2 separate regions of the Homo sapiens genome follow, and region 1 is linked to region 2. The links come from fine-mapping of genetic effects on gene expression. A gene starts in region 2. The other region holds a variant in brackets. All regions are shown on one strand. Distances are from middle to middle. Region 1 overlaps DDHD1 (DDHD domain containing 1). Region 2 holds the start of DDHD1 (DDHD domain containing 1).

Evidence for each region. PIP is the estimated chance that this variant, and not a neighbour inherited with it, causes the effect. A credible set is the group of variants that fine-mapping cannot tell apart.
Region 1: its variant is the best candidate, but not a certain one, in a credible set for the expression of DDHD1 in whole blood (TOPMed, PIP 0.56).

The regions. Positions count from the first base shown.
Region 1 is chr14:53,075,859-53,078,358 of GRCh38, reverse strand. The region is part of intron 4 of DDHD1 (DDHD domain containing 1); the gene reads left to right. Among named protein-coding and RNA genes, the nearest start is that of DDHD1, 76 kb to the left of the region's middle. The variant C/T (reference allele first, on the strand shown) is at 1,543.
Region 2 is chr14:53,152,266-53,155,214 of GRCh38, reverse strand. DDHD1 (DDHD domain containing 1) reads left to right here and starts at 1,892. Exons shown (of 13, transcript NM_001160148.2): 1 at 1,892-2,949. The coding sequence starts at 2,117. DDHD1-DT (DDHD1 divergent transcript) reads right to left here and starts at 1,861. Exons shown (of 3, transcript NR_110062.1): 1 at 1,484-1,861. RefSeq lists a silencer at 1,717-2,046 and an enhancer at 2,867-2,949.

The DNA.
Region 1 (2,500 bases), 77 kb after region 2:
GACCTTGAACGCTACCACTTTAAAGGTACCACTTTATACCCACTAGGATAACTCTTATCAAAAAGATGGAAATTAACAAGTATTAGCTAGGATGAAGAAAAATCACAACCCTTACATGTTTCTTGTGAGATCAGAAAATAGTACAGCTGCTTTGGAAAGAGTTTGGCAGTTCTTCCAAAAGTTAAAGTTAGTGTATGAGCCAGTAATATTGCTTATGTGTATACCCAAGAGATCTGAAAATGTATGTCCACAAAAACTTGTTAAAAGAATGTTCATAGAAGCATTATTCATGATAGCCCAAAAATGGAAGCAACACAAACATCCATCAACTGATGAGCGGCTAAACAAAAGTGGCGTATCCATATAATGAAATACTATTCAACAATGAAAAGCAATGAAGTACTGATTTATGATGCAACATGGATGAGACTTGAAAACATTACACCAACTGAAAAGCCAGACACAAAAGGCCCCATATTGTATGATTATATGAAATGTTCAAAATAGACAAATCTGAAAGTAGATTAGTGGGTGCTGGCAGGTGGGAAGAAGAGGGATAGAGAGTGACTGCTAATGGGTATGGTGTTTCTTTCTGGGGTGATGAACGTGTTATGAAATTAGATAATGGTGATAGCTGCATAACTCTTTGAATATACTAAAAGCCACAATTGTTTTTTAAAAAAAAAAAACAAAAACAAAAACTAATGAAGTTGTGTCAAAAGCAACTTGGAGAGATTCACAGACCTAAAATAGACAATTTGAACCTTGGCAAGGATAATAACTACAGTGGATTGATATGCATCAAATATGCTTAAATCTGTGAGTTAGCAATGACATCAAAATATATAAAACCTAATGACTTGTTATTTTGAAAACTGTTAATAAAGGGAAGAATTAACCATTTATCCTACCTTTTCTAGATTAACTGTGCCTCAGTTCATGCAGAAACTATTTGGTTATACCCCAGTGCAGCTAAATATTTAATGTAAGGAAATTTCTCTTTCTAGAAGTATAAGCCTATAAACAAATGAAGAGTGATGGAATTTAAAAGGCCCTTTTGCCACCATGATAAACTAATGGATTTAAACAATGATCATCAGTAACTGCTATCATCACTAAAAAGAGAAGAAGTTGTGTGTACCTATGTACATATGGAGTAGTAGTCTCGCCAAAACAGAGCTTGCATCTGATGAAGCCCCTATAACTAACTACCAAATTATAGGAAACGGGACAAAGAACATGTTAAACAACACCATAGGGATGCAGTGAATGAAAATCGGACTCTGAGTAACTCTATAGGACACATACACAAAAAATTACAGGTATACCTCAAAGATATTGTGGGTTTGGTTCCATACCACTGCAATAAAGTGAATATCATAATTAAGCAAGTTGCACAAATTGGCTTCTCAGTGCATATAAAAGTTATGTTTACACGACACTGTAAACAAGTATGTGATAGCATAATGTCTTTAAAAATCGTGTACATATCTTAATTTTAAAATGCTGTACTGCTAAATGTCGCTAACCAATTATCTGAGG[C/T]TTCTGTGAGTTCACAGCATCTTTTTGCTGTTGAAGGGTCTTGCGTCCATGTTGATGGCTGCTGACCAGGATGGTAGTTGCCGAAGTTTGGGGTGGGTGTGGCAATTTCTTAAAATAAGACAACAGTGAAGTTAGCCACATCGATTGATTCTTCCTCTCACGAAAGATTTCTCTGTAACATGCAATGCAGTTTGAGAGCGTTTTACCCACTGTAGAACTTACTTGAAAATTTGAATCAATCCTGTCAAACCCTGCCACTGCCTTATCAACTAAGTTTATGGCATATTCTGAATTCTTTGTTGCCATTTCAACAATATTCACATCTTCACCAAGAGTCCATCTCAAACCACTTTCTTTGTTCATCCATAAGAAGCAACTCCTCATCCACTGAAGTTTTCTCATGAAATTGCAGCAATTCAGTCACATCTTCACACTCTGCTTATTTTAGTTCTCTTGCTATTTCCAATACATCTGCAGTTACTTCCTCATTGAAGTCTTGAGCCCCTCAAAGTCATTTATGAGGGTTGGAATCCATTTCTTCCAAACTTCTGGAATGTTGATATTTTCACCCCCCATGAATCACTGAATCACAAATGTTCTTAATGGCATCTAGAATGATGAGTTCCTTCCGGAATACTTTCAGTTTACTTTGCCCAGATTCATCCACTATCTATAGCAGCTATAGCATTATAAAATTTGTTTCTTAAATATAAGGCTTGAAAGTTAAAATTACTCCTTGATCCGTGGGCTGCAGAGTGGATATTGTGTTAGCAGGCATGAAAACAACATTCATCTCCTAGTACATCTCCATCAGAGCTCTTGAGTGACCAGGTACATTGTCAGCGGGCAGTAACCATTTGAAAGGAATCGTTTTTTTTTCTGAGCAGTAGGTCTCAACAGTGGGCTTAAAATATTCTGTAAGCCATGCTGTAAAAAAGATGTGCTGCTATCCAGGCTT
Region 2 (2,949 bases):
ACCGCGCCCGGCCTTAGTACTTCTTTTTTTTTTTTTTTTTTTTTTTTTTTTTTTTTTTAACAGAGGATAATGTTAACGGAAATTGTGTAGTCAAGAGTTAAAATCTGGCCAAAATAATCTGACCAGATAGTTATATAGTTAGGCTACATTCTATCAAGAAACATAAAGGAATAGAGATATTTTAAATGTTGTGATATTCCTTATTTATAATCCCCTTCATAGTACTTTTCATACTGTACTATAATATAATGTATCTGTTTACTTGTCTGTATCCCCCTCTAGGCTGTAAGTTCCTTGAAGAAAGAAAGAACTCTCTCCCATTCTCTCTTATAGTAGAAGTTAGCATAGAGGTGCCTGGCATATAGGTGGCCAGACACCTATTCAAACCCTGTAGAATGAATGCTTTTACAGCTAGTAAACAGACCAAAGCCCATACCCAATATCATATGCTGCATATTGTCAATAGAAATACTGGAGGAGCAACTGGGAAGCAGGCACTCAGAAATTTTTTTTGAGTGGTAAAGAGGGTCCTGATCTTAGATGCTTTCAGTCAGAGCTGCAGTATACAGTTGGATAGGTTGTTCACTGCACAAGGTTAACCAGCTAAGGGCACTAATTGGGGCAGAAAATCCAGCCTGTATTCTACTTGACAAGCCATCAACTCCAACACCGCTCTGTATCTGCCCACAGGAAGCAATGCCTTTTTTCAAATTCCTACAAAGGCCCTGTACAAACTTCAGATAGTCTTGATTTAAATAATGACAGAGTAATAATGTCTGACAGGTTACATCTCAGGAGCAAGAAAAATTGCCCTACCAATCTGATTCCACCAGAGAGTAAAAGAAATAGTGAAGACTGTCTATTCTTAAAATGAAAACACTGAGGTTGGAGATGGTTTTTCTCTGGATTCTCAACATAGGGTGATGTGCTTACAAAATAATTTTTTTTAAATAAAAAAGACCCACATAAGGGAGCCTCTGTATTCAACTTGATCCCAGAATATGAGTTACAGAATCAGAGATGCATAAAAATCTGGAAGAAACCTTAAAGTTCATAGAATTCCATTGCTAGAAGGAACTTTAGATATCATCTGGTCCAAGAATCTTAATTTTACAGATGAGGAAACCAAAAAGATCAGGAAGATTATGTGATTTGCCTGTGGATGGTTAGCAAAGCTAAATCTAGAACCTGGTTGTTTTCTACCTCTCAATCGAACACTCTTTACCACAGCTGGTTGGACTTGACATCATTATAATCAACTAAGACTGATTGCGCACCCACTGTGTGGGAGAGGCTGACATGGACTTGGTTTCCATCAAGGGCCTAGCAATGAGGTTGAGAAAACAGGAAATCCAAGCATCAAAAGATAAGTAATAATATGAGATGGCATATGAAGCAAGGTTTAGATTCCAGTTTCCCAGTGGGAGTGGTGACACCAAGGTGAGTGATGGGTGTGGGGTGGAGTGCCCTCGTATCCACCCACCTATGCGTCCTGGTTCTGTCTGGAGGCACCAGGGCCAGGTGACAAAACGTCCAGGCGAGGCCGCAGTAGGGCCTAAGGTCAAAAAGAGCAATGCTGAATCCTACATCCTGGGGCCCTCCTAACACGTAGCTTAAGGCTCTGGGCTCATGACCCACATTGTAAGGATGAGTGGGGTAAAGCCTATCCACATCTGGGCTGTGAATTCCAGAAGCGGGGGACCGAGGCAGCTGTGCATGAAGACCGCAAGGAAGGAGGAAGGGAGCCGAGGAGGCCCAAGAGCGGCGGGCGACCTGACACCACCCTGCCCTCCCAGCCAGAGGGGCAGGGGGGAACCCCGCGCGCGGCGCCGGTGCAGCCCGGGCTTCCGGGGCGGCGCACGCGGCCGGGGGGCGGGGCGGGGGCCGAAGCACCGCCTACGTCGGGCTGCGTGACAATGGGGCCGGCGGCAGAACGCAGCTGCGGCGGCTGCGGGTCTCGTGGGGGCGGAGCGGTCGCCGCTGCCGCCGCAGCTCGGGTCGGGATTTGAAAGATTAGAAACTTCGGGTGGAGAGGGCGGCGGCGTTGAATGTGTGGCGGAAGCGCTGGGGGTCACGGCTCCGCGCGCCGCCGGACAGCCGGCGGCGTCTCCACAGCATGAATTACCCGGGCCGCGGGTCCCCACGGAGCCCCGAGCATAACGGCCGAGGCGGCGGCGGCGGCGCCTGGGAGCTGGGCTCAGACGCGAGGCCAGCGTTCGGCGGCGGCGTCTGCTGCTTCGAGCACCTGCCCGGCGGGGACCCGGACGACGGCGACGTGCCCCTGGCCCTGCTGCGCGGGGAACCCGGGCTGCATTTGGCGCCGGGCACCGACGACCACAACCACCACCTCGCGCTGGACCCCTGCCTCAGTGACGAGAACTATGACTTCAGCTCCGCCGAGTCGGGCTCCTCGCTGCGCTACTACAGCGAGGGTGAGAGCGGCGGCGGCGGCAGCTCCTTGTCGCTGCACCCGCCGCAGCAGCCTCCGCTGGTCCCGACGAACTCGGGGGGCGGCGGCGCGACAGGAGGGTCCCCCGGGGAAAGGAAACGTACCCGGCTTGGCGGCCCGGCGGCCCGGCACCGCTATGAGGTAGTGACGGAGCTGGGCCCGGAGGAGGTACGCTGGTTCTACAAGGAGGACAAGAAGACCTGGAAGCCCTTCATCGGCTACGACTCGCTCCGCATCGAGCTCGCCTTCCGGACCCTGCTGCAGACCACGGGTGCCCGGCCCCAGGGCGGGGACCGGGACGGCGACCATGTGTGCTCCCCCACGGGCCCAGCCTCCAGTTCCGGAGAAGATGACGATGAGGACCGCGCCTGCGGCTTCTGCCAGAGTACGACGGGGCACGAGCCGGAGATGGTGGAGCTTGTGAACATCGAGCCTGTGTGCGTGCGGGGCGGCCTCTACGAGGTGGATGTGACCCAAGGAGAGTGCTACCCGGTGTACTG